2 separate regions of the Homo sapiens genome follow, and region 2 is linked to region 1. The links come from fine-mapping of genetic effects on gene expression. A gene starts in region 1. The other region holds a variant in brackets. All regions are shown on one strand. Distances are from middle to middle. Region 1 holds the start of GPR37 (G protein-coupled receptor 37). Region 2 has its middle 33 kb from the start of GPR37.

What was found. PIP is the estimated chance that this variant, and not a neighbour inherited with it, causes the effect.
Region 2: its variant is the best candidate, but not a certain one, in a credible set for the expression of GPR37 in lung (TOPMed, PIP 0.56).

The regions. Positions count from the first base shown.
Region 1 is chr7:124,762,880-124,768,094 of GRCh38, reverse strand. It overlaps GPR37 (G protein-coupled receptor 37), which reads left to right and starts at 2,303. Exons shown (of 2, transcript NM_005302.5): 1 at 2,303-4,141. The coding sequence starts at 3,119. RefSeq lists a silencer at 2,162-2,291.
Region 2 is chr7:124,730,292-124,735,506 of GRCh38, reverse strand. No RefSeq gene overlaps it. Among named protein-coding and RNA genes, the nearest start is that of GPR37, 33 kb to the left of the region's middle. RefSeq lists enhancers at 802-1,338, 2,981-3,482, 3,636-4,136. The variant C/T (reference allele first, on the strand shown) is at 2,899.

The DNA.
Region 1 (5,215 bases):
CATTATATAGTTAACACATCAAGTTCTACGTTTTTCCCTTACATTTATGTTTCTGAGATTCAGTCTTGGTGATACACATAAGCCTAGTTTGTCCTTTTTATGAGTATACAAGAAAATATAAATTCAGTGAGAGCAGAACTTTATTTTATTCACTGCTCTGACCTAAGTAACTTGAGCAGAATATTTCTTTAATGAAGTAGTGAATTTGAGAGAATGAGTTAGTGTATATAAATGAATGAATTAATGTACAAATGAATGTGTGCTATTAGCTTATATTTTTTCCTATTTCTGGCTTTGTCTGATTTTGACATTAAGGTTATTCTGCCTTCACAAAATGAACTGAGTAGCTTTAAAACATTTTGTATAAATGTATATTTATTCCGCAGGATATGCTAAGGTCTAGCACTTTCCTCTGGGTAGATCTTGATGAATGATTTGATTTCTTTAATGTTATAGTTCGATTACAGTTTCTGAAAATTTTCTTCTTGAACTATTTTTGGTAGTTTATGTTTTTCTATACAATTATTCCTGTTGTCTCCATTTTTAGATTTAATGGTGTATTAGTTTACTATTGCTACTGCAACAAATAACCATAAATTTTGTGGCTTAAAACAACACACATTCATTATCTTACAGTTATGGAGGTCAGAAGTCTCAAATGGGCTAGTAGATCCTTTTTTATGCCCATTCTAGCTTCCAGAGATTGCCCACATCACTTGGCTTGTGTTTGTTTTTACTCTGACCCTCCTGCCTCTCATTTGTAAGGGCTCTTGTGATTATAGTGTACCCACCTGGATAATCACGATACTCTCCCCATCTCAAGAGTCTTAGCTGAATTGCATTGGCAAAATCCCTTTTGCTCTGTAAGGTAACATACTCACAGGTATTAGGAATTAGGATTCGGACATTTTTTTGGGGGGGCATTATTCTATTTACCACAATTGGTATCATATGTTCCATTGTGTTTTCTCCTGCCTCTCTAGATGTGTTGCTTTAAAAAAATTCAGGCCGGGTGTGATGGCTCACGCCTGTAATGCCAGCGCTTTGGGAGGCCGAGGCGGGCGGATCACGAGGTCAGGAGCTCAAGACCAGCCTGGCCAACATAGTGAAACCCCGTCTCTGCTAAAAATACAAAAAAAATTAGCCGGGCATGGTGGCGGGTGCCTGTAGTCTCAGCTACTTGGGAGGCTGAGGCAGGAGAATCGCTTGAACCCGGGGAGGCGGAGGTTGCAGTGAGTCGAGATCGCACCACTGCACTCCAGCCTGGGCGACACAGCAAGACTCTGTTTAAAAAAAAAATTCAGAATGTGTTTATTTCTTCCTCTATCATTTTCTCTTCATTAATTTGTCTATTTTATTAGCTATGCCCTGACAGTTTTGACAGGGTTGTGGGATATAGTAGAAAGGTTGGAAAGGCATGGACAGCCGTGCTGGGAGTGCTGTTCGAGTAATTTTCTGCCTCCAGTCATTTCCCACTACTTCATCAAATACAACTACCTCACTATGCTCTGGGTGGTACGAAGTAACCCATGGTAGGATGCTTCCCAACTCAGTGTTAAAGGTAATGGTGCATCCTGAGCTTTCTCGCTCTGCATCTCAATCCTGGAACTGGTAATTCTCTATGACTGACACCTCTGAGCTCCCATTCTCTCCTATCTCTAGGGAATACCTGAGGAGGTGAGGTTTCACCTTCTTACTCCCCGCGGCCCAACCCCCGTCCGCCCCTCCCCCGCCCCGCCCCTCGCCCCCCAGAGCTGAGACCTGGGCATGCGCATCAGCCGCAACAGATTGGAGGGGACCCTGCTGCTCACTCCCCTGCTACCCTCCTCTCTTCCCTCCCCCGACCGCTCTCATATTCCCGTTCCCACCCCCACCCCCCACTCCCGCCCCGCACCCGCCCCTAGCCCGGGCTCGGGGACCTGTCAGGCTGGTTTCGACAGCTGGGGAATTAACCTGTCCCGCCCATCCCTAGCCTCGAGCCGCGCAGGCTCCGCGCCTCCGCCCTTGTTCCCTCCCAGCTCCTCCGAGTGGAAGCCGCTACAAATGGCTTGAATGAAACGTGTGTGGGTTTAGTGAGTGGTGAACCACCAGGGGATCCCGTCTCCCCACAAACCAGTATCTCTCCGAGGAGGAGGCGAAGGAGTGGGAGGAGGCAACGAGCCGAGAGTCGAGCTTCGCGGGCGCGCGCAGCGGCTGGAGCGCGGGGGCGAGGCCGGGCCACCTCCCCTTCCCGGCCGCGCACTGCCTGGCCCGCGGCGGTTCCAGGCACCACCCTTCCCGTCCGGGCTGAGCCCGCTGTGGCAGTGACTAGCTCCCGCGGCTAGCGGCACTGTCCACCGACGAGCGGCGCCCTCTTCTCCCCCTTCTCCCCACGATTTCCTTCTCTGCGGCGGCACGCCGTCCAGCAGCCTGCTTCGCCCCGTCGTCAACTTTGAGCTGGAGGAGAAGCAACTTTGGCAGTGGCCGCGGGGTTGGAATCCCGCTTCTCCTCGGCAGCAGTAGGCTCGCAAGTCGCTGGGGTTAGGTGGGGCAAGAGTTTCGCCGGCGCATCAGCGCTGCTTCGGACTGTTTGCAACGTGTTTCCAGCGAGCTGGGAGCGGGGTTGTGACTGCGAGTCGTCTGGGGGAGGGGGACTTGTTTTTCTTTTCCTCTAGAGACCTCGGCTTGCAACTGGATCAAACGCTGTCGAAAGGATGTAAATAGGCAGAGCAACTGTTACCAAGAAGGCCACCACCCCCACCCAAAGGCAGTGAGGAGTGTGGGGCTTCGTCTGGGCTCCCCCGAGTCTCAACAGTAATCAACAGTCAGGTGTTGATTGCAACTTTTCAAGGTCAGCCACCGGGAGTAGCCTATTCCCTCTAGGAACCTTGGAGGGCATACCTTGCTGGGACTCAACTTGGCTGAGAAATGCACAAGATGCCAAAGGAGGAAGGATTATAGGGGGCGTGTGTGTGACCCCCAAGACCGATCTTCCGCTATCACCCTAATCTCCGGTTCCCCGCTACCCGGGCGGGGGTGAGTATGTGACATGTGCCTAACTCTCAGCAGCAACTTCGGCAGCAGGTGTCGATCCTAACTAAGCAGGAGCTGCGGCTGCCGGGTGTGCCCTCACCAAGCCATGCGAGCCCCGGGCGCGCTTCTCGCCCGCATGTCGCGGCTACTGCTTCTGCTACTGCTCAAGGTGTCTGCCTCTTCTGCCCTCGGGGTCGCCCCTGCGTCCAGAAACGAAACTTGTCTGGGGGAGAGCTGTGCACCTACAGTGATCCAGCGCCGCGGCAGGGACGCCTGGGGACCGGGAAATTCTGCAAGAGACGTTCTGCGAGCCCGAGCACCCAGGGAGGAGCAGGGGGCAGCGTTTCTTGCGGGACCCTCCTGGGACCTGCCGGCGGCCCCGGGCCGTGACCCGGCTGCAGGCAGAGGGGCGGAGGCGTCGGCAGCCGGACCCCCGGGACCTCCAACCAGGCCACCTGGCCCCTGGAGGTGGAAAGGTGCTCGGGGTCAGGAGCCTTCTGAAACTTTGGGGAGAGGGAACCCCACGGCCCTCCAGCTCTTCCTTCAGATCTCAGAGGAGGAAGAGAAGGGTCCCAGAGGCGCTGGCATTTCCGGGCGTAGCCAGGAGCAGAGTGTGAAGACAGTCCCCGGAGCCAGCGATCTTTTTTACTGGCCAAGGAGAGCCGGGAAACTCCAGGGTTCCCACCACAAGCCCCTGTCCAAGACGGCCAATGGACTGGCGGGGCACGAAGGGTGGACAATTGCACTCCCGGGCCGGGCGCTGGCCCAGAATGGATCCTTGGGTGAAGGAATCCATGAGCCTGGGGGTCCCCGCCGGGGAAACAGCACGAACCGGCGTGTGAGACTGAAGAACCCCTTCTACCCGCTGACCCAGGAGTCCTATGGAGCCTACGCGGTCATGTGTCTGTCCGTGGTGATCTTCGGGACCGGCATCATTGGCAACCTGGCGGTGATGTGCATCGTGTGCCACAACTACTACATGCGGAGCATCTCCAACTCCCTCTTGGCCAACCTGGCCTTCTGGGACTTTCTCATCATCTTCTTCTGCCTTCCGCTGGTCATCTTCCACGAGCTGACCAAGAAGTGGCTGCTGGAGGACTTCTCCTGCAAGATCGTGCCCTATATAGAGGTAATGCCTTCCAGGGGCTCTCAAGCTAGTGGCTTTATCTGTTTTCGGGATTATAGCATCAGAGAACTGCTGCTGGATGCACCTATCTAGCTGAACGCCTTTCCTTTTTATCTGGGGCCCTCTTTCATTTCTCTTTCCAATCATTTATGCATGTATGTATATACAAAAAGAGGCAGCTTCGCGAAATCACCTTCAAATTCATCTGCTCCTGGGCTGTAAAAAAAGGATGATCTCACAATATACAGAATTGTTTGGAGTATAAATCTATCTCCCTGAATATGGTGTTATGCGTATTTCTGATTTGGCACTTGTCAGAGATTTTAGGGTTAAGTAAATGGCCAGCCTAAGGTTGTCATCATCAGAGCCTACAAGGAAAAAAAAAAAAACATTAGCATTTGTGTACTAGTTACCAAGTGCTTCAATGTGAGTTTTCCCCCAAGAAGATTATTGCATTTTTTCTTAAACAGCAAAGTTGGAGTAACATTTTATTGAAAGAAAGAAAGAAAGAAAATTGTGTTTGTCAGTTGGCCTCATGATATATTAATAACCTCTCAAATTAGTTTAAGTGTCTGACTGTCTTCCATGCTATCCCATCTAAATTCTTAAGTCATTTTTTGTTCCTGTCTTTTCCCATCTCGGTTTCTTAATTTTATTTTTGTGTGTTTGCGTGAACTTAAGCAAAAATAAGACTTTGGCCAGCGTGGCACATAATTTGTTTAACATTCTCAAAGTTATACATTTGTTATTTGTTATGGGTGGAAAGATTGGCTATTTTAAGGGATTGACCCTAAGACTAGAAAATTTCTTGGGAAGAAGGGGGCACATCTAGTTTCCAAACTTTGGAAACAAAAATCATTTTGAGTGAAATTGCATTGTTTCATCCTACAGCTAGTGTCCTGGCCCACTATTGTGGTAGGTGGACTTTGCTCTTTAAATGGCCTCTCTTTAAACACCAGCTCTTGGAAGGGGCCCAACTGTTTTGCTGCCAGTTGTGTTTTTAGCCAGCTGGCCCTTGATTTTCTCCATTCAGACTGTCCATTTCATTTATGGAAGCAGAAGAAGGGAAACTGTAAA
Region 2 (5,215 bases), 33 kb after region 1:
TGTATTTTTAGTAGAGACAGGGTTTCACCATATTGGCCAGGATGGTCTTGATCTCCTGACCTTGTGATCCGTCCGCCTCAGCCTCCTAAAGTGCTGGGGTTACAGGTGTGAGCCACTGCACCCAGCCCACTTTGCATTCTGTCCAGTTTTCTTTAATGGGATTAGAAAGTCTTGAGCATCATATTAATGATAATGGTAATCTCCGTGTCTAAGTTACTGATATGGAGGTAATCATATTCTAATCTTTTACCTCTAAATCTTGCAGACCTTTTCCATACAGTGGTATTTCTTTCACATTTAGTGAGTGCTTAACACTCAAGAAATTCCCTGATTCTTGTGAAAAATCCTGGGACCATGATTTATCTGCTTGAAGGACTAACTCTTCTCAAGGTTAAATCTGAGCCATTGGATGAAATTTTGATTAAGTCTATGGTGGACTAAGCACCCAGGTTGTTCTGTTAGGGACTTGACTTGACTTAGAGAAACATTGCCCTATATGTTCTAAAAAAACAAACAAAAAAAAACAACAAAAAACCCCAGTCTATCCTTTATTCATTCTAGCCTTTCATAATTCCTTAGAACTTCTAACACCATGTGACTATTTTATAATTATATGGATATCCTCTCATGTTTGATAGTACTGGGGACCCATTAATATTGAATTTAAGTGAATTAATGCATACACGAAATTGTGTCTTCATAGAATAAGCACTAATGAGTATTAGCCATTATTACTACATTTTATTATTAATAATTTTATTATTATGTATTTTCATGCACGTCCATGTGAAGAGACCACCAAACAGGTTTGTGTGAGCAACATGGCTGTTTATTTCACCTGGGTGCAGGCGGGCTGAGTCCGAAAAGAGAGTCAGCAAAGAGAGATGGGGTGGGGCCATTTTATAAGATTTGGGTAGGTAAAGGAAAATTACAGTCAAAGGGGAGTTGTTCTCTGGCAGGCAGGAGTGGGAGTCACAAGGTGCTCAGTGGGGGAGCTTTTGAGCCAGGATGAGCCAGGAGAAGGAATTTCACAAGACAATGTCATCAGTTAAGGCAGGAACAGGCCATTTTCACTTCTTTTGTGGTGGAATGTCATCAGTTAAGGCAGGAACTGGCCATCTGGATGTGTACGTGCAGGTCACAGGGGATATGATGGCTTAGCTTTGGCTCAGAGGCCTGACTTTCCTGTCTTCTTATATTAATAAGAAAAATAAAATGAAATAGTGGTGAAGTGTTGGGACTGTGAAAATTTTTGGGGGTGGTATGGAGAGATAATGGGCAATGTTTCTCAGGGCTGCTTCGAGCGGGATTAGGGGCAGCGTGGGAACCTAGAGTGGGAGAGATTAAGCTGAAGGAAGATTTTGTGGTAAGGGGTGATATTGTGGGGTTGTTAGAAGAAACATTTGTCGTGTAGAATTATTGGTGATGGCCTGGATACAGTTTTGTATGAATTGAAAAACTAAATGGAATAACAGAAGGAGAAAAACAGGTATAAAAGGTCTAAGAATTGGGACGACTCAGGACATCTGATTAGAGAGTGCCTAAGGAGATTCAGCATAGTCCTGCCAGCAAAGATTATTTATTTACTTTAAGAGTTAAGAGTGGCAGTTTGGGGATAGCACCAGGAGATATCAGCTGTGATGGCTTGGAGAAACAGTGTAAACTGGCAATGTAAATAAGAGCAGGGCATGTATGAGTAGTTGAGAATGGTGAATAGGAGTATGACTAGACAGAAGATAGTAGGGATGACAATTTTTTTGGGGCACAGTCTAAGTTGGTCTGGTGTCTGGAATGAGACTGGGGCCTAATAAAAAGGAGCATCTATACAGGAGCTTAAATGGGCTGTACCTTGTAGCATTCTGAGGACAGGTCTGACTTCTGAGAAGGGAAAGTGGTAAAAGTATTGTCCAGTCCTTTTTAAGTTGGTGGCTGAGCTTGGTGAGGTGTGTTTTTAAAAGACCTTTAGTCCATTCTACTTTTCTTGAAGATGGAGGACCGTAAGGGATATAAGGGTTTCACTGAATACTAAGAGCCTGAAACACTGCTTGGCTGATTTGACTAATAAAGGCTGGTCTGTTATCAGACTGTATAGAGGTGGGAAGGCTAAACTGAGGAATTATGTCTCACAGAAGGGAAGAAATGACTGCGGTGGCCTTCTCAGACCCTGTAGGAAAGGACTCTACCTATCCAGTGAAAGTGTCTACCTAGACTAAGAGGTATTTTACTTATCTGACTCAGGGCATGTTGAGTAAAGCTAATTTGCCAGTCCTGGGTGGGGGCAAATCCTCGAGCTTGATGTGTAGGGAAGGGAGGGGGCCTGAATAATCCCTGAGGAGTAGTAGAATAGCAGATGGAACACTGAGAAGTTATTTCCTTGAGGATAGATTTCCACGATGGAAAGGAAATGAGAGGTTCTAAGAGGCGGGCTAGTGGCTTGTACTATAGCATAGCCTGCCTTTGCTGGTGTGTGGCGATTAGGCCTAGTGGAACCGCCATCAATAAATCAAGCATGATCAGGGTTAGGAACAGGAAAGAAGGAAATATGGGGAAATGGGGTGAATGTCAGGTGGATCAGAGAGACAGTCATGGGGGTCAGGTGTGATATCAGGAATAATGTGGGAGGCTGGATTGAAGTCTGGGCCAGGAACAATGGTAATTGTGGGACTTAACAAAGAGTGAGTACAGCTGAAGGAGCCGGGGATCAGAAAGTATATGCGTCAGGTAAGAGGAAGAGAATAGATTTTGGAAGTTATGAGAAATGTAGGGAGTGAGTTGAGCATAGTTTGTGATTTTTAGGGCCTCTAAAAGTATTAAAGCAGCAGCAGCCGCTGCTTGCAGACATGAGGGCTAGGCTAAAACAGTAAGGTCAAGTTGTTTGCACAGAAAGGCTACAGGGTG[C/T]TGTCCTGGCTCTTGTGTAAGAATTCTGACCGCACTAACCATGCCTAGGAAGGAAAGGAGTTGTTGTTTTGTAAGGGATTGAGGTTTGGGAGATTAATCGGACATGATCAGCAGGGAAAGCACGTGTGTTTTTATGAGAATTATGCCGAGATAGGTAACAGATGAGGATGAAATTTGGGCTTGACTGAAGTAATGGGGGCTGTCTGTGAAGCCTTGCGGCAGTACAGCCCAGGTAATTTGCTGAGCCTAATGGGTGTCAGGTCAGTCTAAGTGAAAGCAAAGAGAGGCTGGGACGAGGGGTGCAGGGGAATAGTGAAAAAAGCATCTTTAAGATGGAGAACGGAATAGTGAGTTGTGGAGGAAGGTATTGAGGACAAAAGAGTGTACGGGTTGGGCACCACAGGATGGATAGGCAAAACAATTTGGTTGATAGGGCGCAGATCCTGAACTAATCTGTAAGACTTGTCTGGTTTTTGGACAGGTAAAATGGGGGAATTGTAAGGAGAGTTTATAGGCTTTAAAAGGCCATGCTGTAGCAGGCGAGTGATAACAGGCTTTAATCCTTTCAAAGCATGCTGTGGGATGGAATATTGGCATTGAGCGGGGTAAAGCTGATTAGGTTTTAATGAGATGGTAAGGGGTGCATGATTGGTCGCCAAGGAGGGAGTAGAGGTATCTTATACTTGTGGGTTAAGGTGGGGGAATACAAGAGGAGGACACAAAGGAGGCTTTGGATTGGGAAGAAGGGCAGCAATGAGATGTAGCTGTAATCCAGGAACAGTCAGGGAAGCAGATAATTTAGTTTAAGTGTCTCGTCCTAGTAAGGAACTGGGCAGGTGGGGATAACTAAAAGGAGTGCTTAAAAGAGTACTGTCTAAATTGGCACCAGAGTTGGGGAGTTTTAAGAGGTTTAGAAGCCTGGCTGTCAATACCCACAACAGTTATGGAGGCAAGGGAAACAGGCCCTTGAAAAGAAGGTAATGTGGAGTGAGTAGCCTCGGTATTGATTAAGAAGGGGACAGACTTACCCTCCACTGTGAGAGTTACCCGAAGCTCGGCGTCTGTGATGGTCTAGGGGGCTTCCGAGGTGATCGGGCAGCGTCAGTCTTCAGCCGCTAAGCCAAGATCTGGGAAGGAGTCAGAGAGCCTTGGGCCAGAATTCCAGGGGCTCTGGGAGTGGCTGCCAGGTGAGTTGAAAAGTCCGATTTCCAGTGGGGTCCCGCACAGATGGGACGCGGCTTAGGAGGAATCCTGGGCTGCAGGCATTCCTTGGCCTGGTGGCCAGATTTCTGGCACTTGTAGCAAGCTCCTGGGGGAGGAGGTTCTGGAGGAACGCCTGGCCGCTGCGGTTCAGGCATTTGGAAGTTCTTGTGTGCTGGAGTTGTGGCTGGGTTTGTCTCACAGTGGAGGCAAGGAATTGCAACTTTTTTCTATTATTTTACACCTTGAAGGCGAGGTTAATTAAATCCTGTTGTGGGGTTTGAGGGCCGGAATTTAATTTTTGGAGTTTTATTTAATGTTGGGAGCAGATTGGGTAATAAAATGTATATTGAGAATAAGACGGCCTTTTGACCTTTTAGGGTCTAGGGCTGTAAAGCGTCTCAGAGTTGCTGCCGAAGGAGCCATGAACTGGGCTGGGTTTTTTATATTTGATGAAAAAGAGTCTAAATGCTAACTGATTTGGGAGAGGTCAGATAAAGAAAAAGGAGCATTAACCTTGACTATGCCTTTAGCTTCAGCCACATTTTTAAGAGGAAATTGCTGGGCAGGTGGGGGAGGGCTACTCACGGAATGAAACTGTAAACCGGACCAGGTGTGAGGAGGGGATGTGATAAAAAGATTATAGGGTGGAGGAGCAGAGGCTGAGGAAGAATTGGGACTTAGCTCGGCCTGGTGATGAGCAGCCTGAGGAGGAGGGGAAAGGTCAGATGGGTCTGTAGAAAAGTAAGACTGGAAAGACTCAGAGATGCTTGGGGTTGGGACTGAGGGGACAGGCGGGAGGGAAGAAGGAGGATTTGGGAGGAGTCACATTGGAAACAGAGACTAGAGAGGGACTGATGTGTAAAAGAATGCCTGGACATCAGGCAACTCAGACCATTTGCCCATTTTATGACAAGAATTATTTAGATCTTGTAGGATGGAAAATTGAAAGTGCCATTTTCTGGCTATTTGGAACTACTGTTGAGTTTGTATTGGGGTCAAGCGGCATTTCAGAAGAAAATAAGATGCTTAGATTTTAGGTCAGGTGAGAGTTGAAGAGGTTTTAAGTTCTTAAGAACACAGGCTAAGGGAGAAGAAGGAGGAATGGAGGGTGGAA